2 separate regions of the Homo sapiens genome follow, and region 2 is linked to region 1. The links come from fine-mapping of genetic effects on gene expression. A gene starts in region 1. The other region holds a variant in brackets. All regions are shown on one strand. Distances are from middle to middle. Region 1 holds the start of ZNF205 (zinc finger protein 205). Region 2 overlaps ZNF213 (zinc finger protein 213).

Region 1 (5,362 bases):
CAAGCCGCCTCCACAGTGCCGGTGGGCGTGGTGCCCAAGGGCAGCTACCCCTTCTCAGCTCCAGCCTCACACTGACCTCAGCAGTGTAGACTGCTGTCTATTAGTGTATGAAGAAACCAAGTGTAGTGGCTTGAATAGTGTCCTCTAAGAATCCGTGTCCTCCCTGGACCTCAGAATGGGACCTTATTGGGGAAAAGGGTCTTTATACAGGTAAGTTAAAGATCTTGAGATTAAATCATCGTGAATTTAGAGTGAGCCTAAAATCTAACAATGACTTATGTCCTTATAAGAATAGGAGAGGACACAGAGACACAGAGAAGGAAGCAGAGACTGGAGGGATGCCCACACCAAGGACACCAGGAGCCCCCAAGGAGTTGGAAGAGGTAAGGGAGGGTCCTCTTAGTCTAGAGCTTTCAAAAGGAGTGTGACCCTGCTGACACCTAGATTTTGGACTGCAGGCCTCCAGGACTGTGAGAGAGCCAATTCTGGTTGTTTTCAGCCCCCCAGAGAGTGGAAACTTGTTACAGCAGCCACGGGAGACTAACACACCATGGCTGGGGATGAGACAATGCCCCGTGACCACATAGCTCAAAAGCTTTGGGAAAGTCAGGGAGGGCCCTGGTGGGGCCTCATCCACAGCACAGGAACTGGCCGGACTTCTGCTGGGGTCTCACACTCCTTCCTCCACGCCCTGTCTGTGTTTGGGTCTTGAAGGGAAAGAACCTCAGGCCAGGAATCAGAGTGCCTGGGTGCCAGACCCAGCGACACCCCTCCCCAATCAGGCAGCCTTCAGGACGCAGCTGCTCTGCCCCTGCACAGAATGGTCATGAGGTTCACGCAGATAATGATGGAGAAGGAGCTGCCAGCTCAGGAAAGTCCTGGATAAACACAGGGTGGCGCTGGTCATTAATCCCCCCCGCCGTGCGCACCAGACAGAAGCCAGTGCCAGCAGAGAATGCCAACATGTGGGGCTCTACTGACATGCCCAAGGTGTTCAAGGCACACGGGAAGTGGATGGGAAACTGAACCATGCTAACAATTCTTTGTGCTTCTATGGCATGAAAACCATAGATGATGGCGTCTCATGCCTATTATCCTTAGAGCCTCCCAGTGACCCTGCGAGACAGGTGGAAATGGCAGGCATGTGGTCTGCATTTTACAGATGACACATCTGGTTCCCAGAGGCCAGGGACTGGCCCCTGGCCTGTCGCTGACTCATACTCCTCCAACTCCAAGCCCGGAGACCCAGGTCCCCCACAAATAGTAATTACACACACACACTCAACCACGCACGCACACACACACGGGTAGCAGGTACAGGAAGGAGAAAGGACCGGGAGCTCAGACCCACAGAGATGAGAAGCTGTGGTTCCAGGTGGAGAAGCACGGGGAAGGAGAACAGGTTTCCCTGTGTGCTCTGAGCGCTGCTCAGAAAGAAAACCTCACTGATAGGACCTCCACCCAGACCTCTTCCATCTCCTGTGGCCACTGGCTAGAGAATTCACCAGCAAAGCAAAACTGTTATGCTGTAAATTCCAGACAGAGGGTACTACCCAGCATGCCACCTTCTCTTTGATCTCCCCACCCCAGTGAGTCTAACTCTTCCAGGGGTCCAGACTCTGTGCCTTGAAAATCTCCTCCGCACCAGCCTCTTCTACCGCACACCTCCCTCAGCCAGCCCCATCTGTACCTCCGGGGGTGTCTCCTTGTCCTGGGTGTCCTGGATGCCTCCGCCGTCTGCAGACATTTTCTATTTCAGAGCTAGAAAGAACAGCTGAGTTGTTTCTCCCTCTTTTTGGCCAAGCCCCCTCCAGCTTCTGGCCAGGAGCCTAGAAGAGCAGACAGAAACCAGCCCTCGCTTCCTGGACACCCCCAAAGAGCCCTGAAAATCCCCACGAGTACCAGCGCTCCCTGGTCCCAATCGGAAAGAAAGTCTCCCAGATCCTATCCGATGGTCCCACTCTCTGTGATGTTTTCTGGGTCCTATTTTTGAAAGAATGCTATTTTGTATTGTCCCCTTTATTGCTGAAGCAAGAGCCTCGCATCTCAGTGTAACCGGCTCAGGGAAAGCCGAGGCTAAATTGGAATCGCTATTTCCTGTCATCAGGAGCAGAAAGTTCTGCAGAGATCCTGCAGAACAGGTGCTGGTGGGGCCCCGCCCGTCAAGGCCAGGGTAATCCAGGACCTGCTGTCCCCCGACCCCAGGACATACACCGTGTGTCCCTACCTGACTCCCATGCCCACCAGGAATTCAGAAATCAACCTGCCCGCTCTCAGCAGCCCCCCTGCAGCTGCAACCACCTGCCCCAGGCCTGGGATGCCCATCCTGCTCTCGGTCCTGGCAGACAATGTCCTTCTCCTTCCCAAACCCGGTCCTGGCCCCCTTCTCTCCTGCCAGCTTGAAGCCTTCCACCTTTGACCCCATCCCCTCCTGCAAGCTGATCATCTGCGCCGGTCTCGGGATCCAGATGCCCTCCCCAGCACCCCCTTCTCACCGGGGTGGAGGCAGAGGGGGCACCTGCGGCAGTGGGGGCCCCCTCCCCCGGGAAGGGAGTCTCCACAGCCTGCACGGGGCGGGCGGGGGAGTTGGGTGGAGACTGGGAGTAGGGAAGACAGGAAGTCCCTCCCAGATCCCATTCCCCATGCAGCCGCAGCCCTACAGCGTTCCCGGTTTTGAGGGTTCCGGGTGTGGAGTCTCGAGCCTGGGTTGCACCTGCTCTTGGCCGGGAGGTGACTCCCAGAGCCGCAATGCCAGCTCATGAGGATGGCTTTACCCAGGACGCGTTCATGATGCCAGCAAGGCAGAGCCACCAAAACAGAAAAATGGAAGATGCATTTTGTGGAAAGATTGTGTTATTTGAAATTTCAAAGCGAGCACTGCAGTTGTCCTCACAGGTAGAAAGAAGGGCATTTTGCAGGGTGGAGAGGGCAGGACCATTTATTTTAGCACTCGGGGTTTCTGAAGGTTATTGTCTCCTGAGGGACCCTGAATTCATTTAGGGACTCCTAGTCAAGGGCCCTCTGGGTCCCCCCAAGACTGGCACAGAACTCTCTCCCTAAGAGTGAACTTGGGAAACAGGCTGGGAACTCCCCCCAATCCGGATGCCCCACACCTTGGGAAGAAGTTGGTTAATCCGATTCTTCCAGGCCCATTTCAGCTTGGGGATAGAGGGTGTGATCCAGCTATAAATGGGGTTCTAAGTTCTCAAACACGCCTGGCAGCTGCAGATTCTGCCTCTCAGGCACCATTTCCCTTTAGACCCTGAGAAGTAAGGCCTCAAATAGAGAGGACAGAGACTGTGCTTTACTTTCTGGGGGAAGGAACCATTTCTCTTGGGCAGGCATGGGGGCTGGGTGTCAGGAAAAGGGCCAGGGGCCCAGTCCTGGAATCAGATTCCAGGAAGTTTCCCTAGGAAACGTCCCCATGCCACTGTCTTTGGCTCACCAGAATCCCCTGAGGTGCACAGCTTCACACAGTAAGATGGGCCCAGCTGCCTCTGTACCAGCTCGTGCTATGTTGTGTGGGCTTTTAAGGGTTTGTTTGTTTATTTATTTACTTATTTGAGACAGGGTCTTGCTCTGTTACCCAGGCTGAAGTGCAGTGGCACGATCATAGCTCACTGTACCCTCAACCTCCTGGACTCAAGCAATTCACCTCAACCTCCCAAGTAGCTGGGGCCACAGGCGCATGCCACCATGCCTGGCTAATTTTTTAAATTTTTTTGTAGAGATGGGGGTCTTGCTTTGTTACCCAGGATGGTCTTGAACTCCTGATCTCAAGCAATCCTCCCACCTCCCAAAGTGCTGGGATTACAGGTGTGAGCCATCATGCCCAGAGGGTTTAATTTTTTTTTTTTTTTTTTTGAAATGAAGTCTCACTCTGTGGCCCAGACTGGAGTGCAATGGCGTGGTCTTGGCTCACTGCAACCTCCACCTCCCTGGTTCAAGTGATTCTCCTGCCTCAGCTTCCCAAGTATTTGAGATTACAGGTGCCCATCACCATGCCGGGCTAATTTTTGTATTTTCAGTAGAGACGGGGTTTCACCGTGTTGGCTAGTCTGGTCTCGAACTCCTGACCTTGAGTGATCCACCTGCCTTGGCCTCCCAAAGTGCTGGGATTACAGGCGTGAGCCACCGCGCCCAGCTAATTTTGTTTTTTTTTTAACTTAGTTTCTAACATTAAAAAATTGACACTCATAAAACTGATTCTTTTATTTTTTTAGACGGAGTTTCGCTCTTCTTCCCATGCTGGAGTGCAATGGCGCAATCTCAGCTCACCCCAACCTCCGCCTCCTGGGTTCAAGCGATTCTCCTGCCTCAGCCTCCTGATTACCTGGGATTACAGGCATGTGCCACCACACCTGGCTAATTTTGTGTTTTTAGTAGAGATGGGGTTTCTCCATGTCGGTCAGGCTGGTCTGGAACTCCTGACCTCAGGTGATCCGCCCACCTCAGCCTCCTAAAATGCTGGGATTACAGGCGTGAGCCACCGCGCCCAGCCTATAAAATTGATTCTTTAAAAAAAATTAGAACATTTACCGATGCTGGACCCACCTTCCCCACCTTCAGGGTCCACTTTCTAGGTGGCCACAGTGCCTGCTTGGCCCCTGTAGCATTTGAGTTTGCAACTCTGCTTTTGGAGTTAAACATGTTTTAGGAGTCCTGGGATTCTGATTGATGCTATTGTCAATTTGATGAAAGAAAAATTACTCCTGGGATTTGTGTCTGGTGTTTTCCAGGTGTTCTGGTTTTGGGATTTTGTTGTTGTTTTGTTTTGTTTTTGTTTTTCTGAGACAGAGTCTCGCTCTGTCATCCAGGCTGAAGTGCAATGGCACCATTTCGGCTCATTCCAACCCCCACCTCCTGGGTTCAAACGATTCTTCTGTCTCAGCCTCCCAGGTAGCTGGGATTACAGGAGTGTGCCACCGCGGCCAGCTAATTTTTGTATGTTTAGTAGAGACAGGGTTTCATCATGTTGGCCAGGCTGGTCTCGAACTCCTGGGTTCAAGCAATCCACCCACCTCTGCCTCCCAAAGTGCTGGGATTATAGGCTGAGCCACTGTGCCTGGCCAGGTGTTCTGTTTTTGTTTTTGATTTTTTAGAGATGTGGTCTCGCTATATCACCCAGGCTGGTCTCGGACTCCTGGCTTCAAGCAAGTCTCCCGCCTCAGCCTGCTCAGTAGCTGGGACCACAGGTGCGAGCCACCACACCCGGCTTCTAGGTGTTTTAAGCCTCAAGGCGAAGAGAGACATGCAACTTAACAAGTCAGTACTGTTTTCAAGCCAGAGTGAGCGATGAACTGAAAGCTGAAGCGGGGAGGGGTCCTGGAAATCATGACACTCTTCACTCTGCCAACCAGGA
Region 2 (5,362 bases), 31 kb before region 1:
CCAGCACAGGCCCCCCAGCGCCTCCACGTCATGCTGGGCCCCAGGCCGGCCTTGGATCACAGCCAGGAGGAGGGCAGCCCTGGCCTTGGACAGGTCATACTGTGTGCTGGGACCGGGGGCCGGCTGCAGAGAGGGTTAAGACACATCTAAAGTGGCCTGAGAGGACTCCAGCTCCTGGCCTCCCCGGCCGGGGCCCCCCCTAAGCTTCTGTCCCACTGGAAACTGTGGCCATGTGATTGGATCCCTGCCCTGCCCCCCTCACCTCAGGCCTCCAGGGCTCCACGCCTCCCAGGCACAGTGCCCCCCTCAAGGAGCTCCGAAGGACGGGGCAGCAGGTGCCCCCTGCGGACTCTTCAGCCACCCTGCGGAAGAGCTGGGGATGGGGCCGAGAAAAGACTCAGCCAGGCTTGTGGCTTCTATAGTCTCTTCAGGGTCACCTGCCAGAATGCAGACAGGAGGAGGCCAGCAAAGGACAGACAGGCAGGATGGCCTCAAGCAGGGCCCAGGCTCCAGTTCAGGCTCAAGGTTATGGACTTCCCTGGGCATGGATGGCCTCGAGTGGACAGTGGCCACACCATTAACCCCTGCCCCGGGATCAGTGCGCAGAGAGGTGGGGATGTTCCCTAGAGCGGGGCTGGGCCTGTCGGGAAGACTCACGGGGTGGGCACTACCCTGCTGGGCGATCTGTGGAGGAGAGCTGGGGCCCCCTCATCCCCAGGGCTGCCCAGGGGCCACCCAACTACACAGTGAGACCTTCAGCCTTGGAGACCAGACTTGAAGCATTCCCAGTCCCAGCCTCCAGGGTCCTGCGATCTAACAGGGCGGACAGCCACTGCTTGGTGTAGAAAGGGGCAGCCTGAAGTGCAAGCGTGGATGCAAGGAAGGGCATCGCTGGCAGCCTGCAGAGGACTGTGCAGGGCTCCCGGGACAACAGGAAGGCATAGCAGGCAGAGGGAACTGCTTGGGCCAAGGCATGGAGCTGGGAGGAGTCGAGTGTCGGGGATCCTGAGTGGGTTGTCAGGGGTCCCGAGTTGAGGGTGAGGGGCTGAGACCACTTCTGTAGAAAATAAAGGAGGTTTGTAGAATGAATCGGAGGGAGGATACAAGTGAATGAATCTAACTGTAACTGGCTTAGGGGGGCACAGCAGAACCAGCGGAGACAGCAGGACCAGCCCCGCTTCCCTGGGCCTCCCCCTCCAGCGTCCCCACCTTCGTCAGCAGCTGCACCAGGGACCAGTGAGGAGAGCGGCCACACAGCTCTCTCAGGCCAGCAAGGAAGGCTCCGGGCTCCAGGGAGGCTGGGTAGAGAAGCAGCATGTTGGCCTGCAGTGAGGCCCGAGGCTCTGCCCCTGGGTCCCTGCCCAGCTCCTGGATCCTGACCCAGCTCACTCACACCCAGGACCACTTGAGAGCAGCAGGAAGACTTTGGGGCAGCCCCGCAGGGCCCGGCAGCCGCTCAGCTCCCGGACCAGCTGCTGTGGCTGCCTCAGCTGCCCTCTGGGGGCATCAAGGCCACTAAGGCACACCCCACAGGGCGCCCGTGGGCATCCAGCTGCTCCTGGAACCAAGCCAGTTCCTCGAGGAAGCCCTAGGGGCAAGAGTGAGACCGACCTGAGTCCGGGGAGGTTTTGGGTGGGGAGGAGATTCTGGGTCAGGGGAGAGTGGGGAAGGGGTCGGTGCTGGGCCTGAGGGTGGATGTAAGAGGCAGAGGCTCACCTGGACCGGGACCTCCCTCCTCTCGCAGCTCTCAAAGCCCAGGGCCTGGAACACGTCCTCCAGGGCAGTGACTACAGCGGCCGCCACCCCAGGGCTGCTGAGCATCAGGGCTGCCCTTGGACCCTGGACGTCATACTTCCCCTGGGGAGGCAAGGCCAGAGCTGGGCTGGGCTGGGCTGGGCTGGGGCTCAGCAGGGAGGCAGGAGCAGCTGGGCTAGGCGGTGCCTCCTGCTACCTTTCTCCCCAGGCTGTCTCGAGTGTCTGCCATCTGCGTGGCCAGCCGCAGGGTCCCAGCCACCAGGAAGGCCATAGGGCGAGACGGGGCTTCCTCCAAGCACCAAGCTCGGAGCTCACCTCCTGGCCCTGGGCTCTCAGTGCCCTGGGTCCTAACCCTTGCCCTCTACCCTAACGAGTACTATCAGCTCTGCTTATGAGCTGAGCTGGACTCTGCCCCATCCCTGGAACCCTGGGTCCTGGCCCCGCTCTCCCAGCCTGGGCTTCATTCTCTGGCTCCTGCTGGTGACTTCTTTGCTGGCACTGACATGCCCCTACCCGAGCCAGGAACCTGTGCTCAATCCTATTCTTAGCTCCTGGCCTACGTGCTTATCTGATCTCGTTACACCCGAGTGTCTCCATTTGGAGCCAGCCACCGCCACCAAGAAGTCCTTGTACCATCCCGGCCACCCGCCACACGCATGCACACAGCACCAGGCCCCCAGAGGTAAAAATCACCAACTGGAATCAGCCTTGTCCACAGCGAGACCTTGCTTGCTTCTTACGGGAAACGGAGACCATGACAGTGACCGCAGGATGATGTGTGCATGGAAGGTTGGCTAAGAAAGGCCTAGGGGCAGAGAGGGCTGGCACATGCACACCTGTTACCAAGGGACCAGAGC[G/A]TCTTGTCCACCGGCCCCCGCCTCCCCTCAGCCAGGGGCCCTGAGGCCACTAGCAGGTGAAAGAGAAGGAACCAGCATGGGTGGAAGGAGGGGTCGTGCCTGGATGATCACTAGTTTTGACCACGCACCCACCAGCCCTTGGTGGGTCCCGGCCTGGGGCTCCTGGTAGGGAGAAGTTGGATGTCAGGGGCTGGTGGGAAGGGCAAGCCCGCTGTCAGCCCCTCCTCCAAGGGACTCAGCCTGGGGCAGCCTTGAGTTCCAGATCCCCAACACGCAGCAAGAGGGTCCCACCACTGACCAAGCAGCGTCTATGGGCCCTTCTTCCTTTCACAGTTGTGGGAGAGGAGTGGCCTGGTGAAGACCCTGAGTCCTGCTCAGCTCCCCGTTCTGCTGGAGCACCGACGGTGCTCCCAGAGCAGGGCAGGCACTAGCTGACACAGGGGGACAAGAGTCCCAGGGGACACGGCTGCCCATTGGGGCCCAGCCGACCTGGACGCCAAGGACGCAGCTCCGCCTGGTCACGGTGCAGCAGCATGTGCCACCAGGACACAAGGCCAGGGCAAGGGGCATATATTCCAGGTATCCCCACCCTCCAGCTACCGAAAGAACAGAACAGCCTGGAGGTAAGTTTTCACGTTTATTAATACTCTTCTGTTGCCCTTTGGAGGTCTGAGGGGGAGTCCTTGCAGGGCCTCTGGTCTGTCCCTGTTCATGGAAGGCAGTGCTCAGGAGGCAGCAGCAAAGTGCCAATGAAGCAGGGCGTTAGTGCCGATGGAGCAGGGAGCCAGTACCGGTGGAGCTGGGCGTTGGTGCCAATGGAGCGAGGCACTGGTGCCGGTGGAGCGGGGCGTTAGTGCCGATGGAATGGGGCACCAGTGCCGTTGGAGCTGGACGTAGTGATGATGGAGCAGGGTGGTAGTGCCGACGGAGCTGGACATAGTGATGATGGAGCGGGGTGGTAGTGCCGATGGAGCCGGACGTTAGTGACAATGGAGTGGGACACCAGTGCCGATGGAGCAGGGCGTTAGTGCTGATGGAGTGGGGCACCAATGTCAAAGGAGCGGGTCATTAGTGCCGCTGGAGTTGGGGCGTTAGTGCCAATGGAGTGGAGCATTAGTGCTGATGGAGTGGGGCGCCGAGTGGGGCATTAGTGCCGATGGAGCGGGGCCGATGGAGTGGGGCGCCGAGTGGAGCATTAGTGCCGATGGAGCAGGGCGCCAGTGCCGATGGAGCAGGGTGCCGGGGCCGATGGAGTGAGGTGCTAGTGCTGATGGAGTGAGGTGCTAGTGCTGATGGAGTGCTAGTGCTGAGTCTGGTGCAGCCCCACCTCTGGAGGAAAAGATGGCAGCCAGGCGCCCTGTTCTTGGTCTCCAGGGTTGGCCTCCTGTCGCTGGAGCCACCATTATCCTCACCAGATTGGTGGGCAGGTGGCTCTCAGAGCCTCATGCTAGGGCAAGTAGGCCGAGGGCAAAGGCAGGCCGAGTCCGTATGGCCAGGACAGGGCAGAGTGGTCATGGCCTGGAAACGGGAGTGGGAGGGGGCCAGAAAGCCCCTGCCGCCGTGACTAAGACCCGCGGTCCCACAGGTGTGGGCTGTCTCTCCCAAAGTCCAGCAGCCCCCTGGGGGGCCAAGGCCAGTCCTCCACGCCCACTGAAAGGCACAGGTTGGTAGGGCAGAGGCCTGACCCATGGACCCACCCCACAGGGTGGGGGCCAAAGAGCCACACAGTCAAATGAGGCTCGGGGGCTTCTGGGAAGGGACCTAGACCTGAGTCCTTGCCACCCTGCTGTCCCTGCCAGGAATGTGTTGGGGCTCCAGGAAACTAGAGGGGAAGAGGAACGCTAGGCGCAGAAGGGGGAAAGAGGACAAGATCGGGGGCGGGAGGGGAAGGCTTCCGTTCCCTTTGAGCGCTGGGCAGGTCCTCAGAGCCAAGCAGGGCAGGCGAGCTCCGAGTGTGAGGTACCCTGGGGTCCCTCGGACAGCCCGGGAGGTGGCCACAGATGGAAGGAGAGTCCCAGTGGTGAACAAAGCAGGATGTGCCGTGGCTGGGCCTCCCCCGGGTTTCCGGCCAAGCCAGCTGCTCACCCCACGGGCTGGGCCATCTTGGCGTGCAGGCTCTGATGCGCGATGAGGTGCGCGCGCTGCTTGAAGCTCTTGTCGCACTCTCCGCAGCCGAAGGGCCGCTCACCGGTGTGCACACGCCGATGGTCCAGCAGGTAGGAGCGCAGCGAGAAGCTCTTGCCGCAGTCGCTGCAGCCGAAAGGCTTCTCGCCCGTGTGTATGCGCTGGTGGTCGGCCAGGTAGGCGCTGCGGCTGAAGCTCTTGCCGCACTCGGAACAGGAGAAGGGCTTCTCGCCCGTGTGCACGCCTTGGTGGCGCACCAGGTCCGAGGAGCTGCGGAAGCTCTTGTCGCACTCAGGGCACTTGTGTGGCTTCTCGCCCGTGTGCGTGCGCTGGTGCCGCGCCAGGTCCGAGCCCCAGCGGAAGCGCTTTCCACACTGCCCGCAGCTGTGCGGCTTCTCGGCTGCCAGGTCCCGGAACTGGCGCCGGCGAGTGGGTGGCCGCCCCCGTCGCGCGCCCACCACTGGGCCCAGGGCCGCCCTCGGCCGGTTCTCGCTCTCCCAGGCCTCAGCCTCCTCGGGGCTCCAGGACACAGTCACGTCGCTGCCTGTCTGGCCTGGCACCACCGGCACCATCTCCTGCAGCAGGGACTTCTCACTTTGGCCTTTGAGCCCAAAACCTGCAAGGGG

Evidence for each region. PIP is the estimated chance that this variant, and not a neighbour inherited with it, causes the effect.
Region 2: its variant is the best candidate, but not a certain one, in a credible set for the expression of ZNF205 in skeletal muscle (GTEx, PIP 0.69).

Annotation. Positions count from the first base shown.
Region 1 is chr16:3,109,816-3,115,177 of GRCh38, reverse strand. ZNF205 (zinc finger protein 205) reads right to left here and starts at 2,592. Exons shown (of 7, transcript NM_001042428.2): 1 at 2,496-2,592; 2 at 1,691-1,761. The coding sequence starts at 1,747. It overlaps ZNF205-AS1 (ZNF205 antisense RNA 1), which reads left to right. Exons shown (of 3, transcript NR_024167.1): 1 at 1-210; 2 at 296-383; 3 at 4,224-4,718. RefSeq lists an enhancer at 1,069-1,657.
Region 2 is chr16:3,140,679-3,146,040 of GRCh38, reverse strand. It overlaps ZNF213 (zinc finger protein 213), which reads right to left. Exons shown (of 6, transcript NM_004220.3): 6 at 3,237-5,352. The coding sequence ends at 4,694. It also overlaps the pseudogene CASP16P. Among named protein-coding and RNA genes, the nearest start is that of TRR-CCG1-3, 7.3 kb to the left of the region's middle. The variant G/A (reference allele first, on the strand shown) is at 2,613.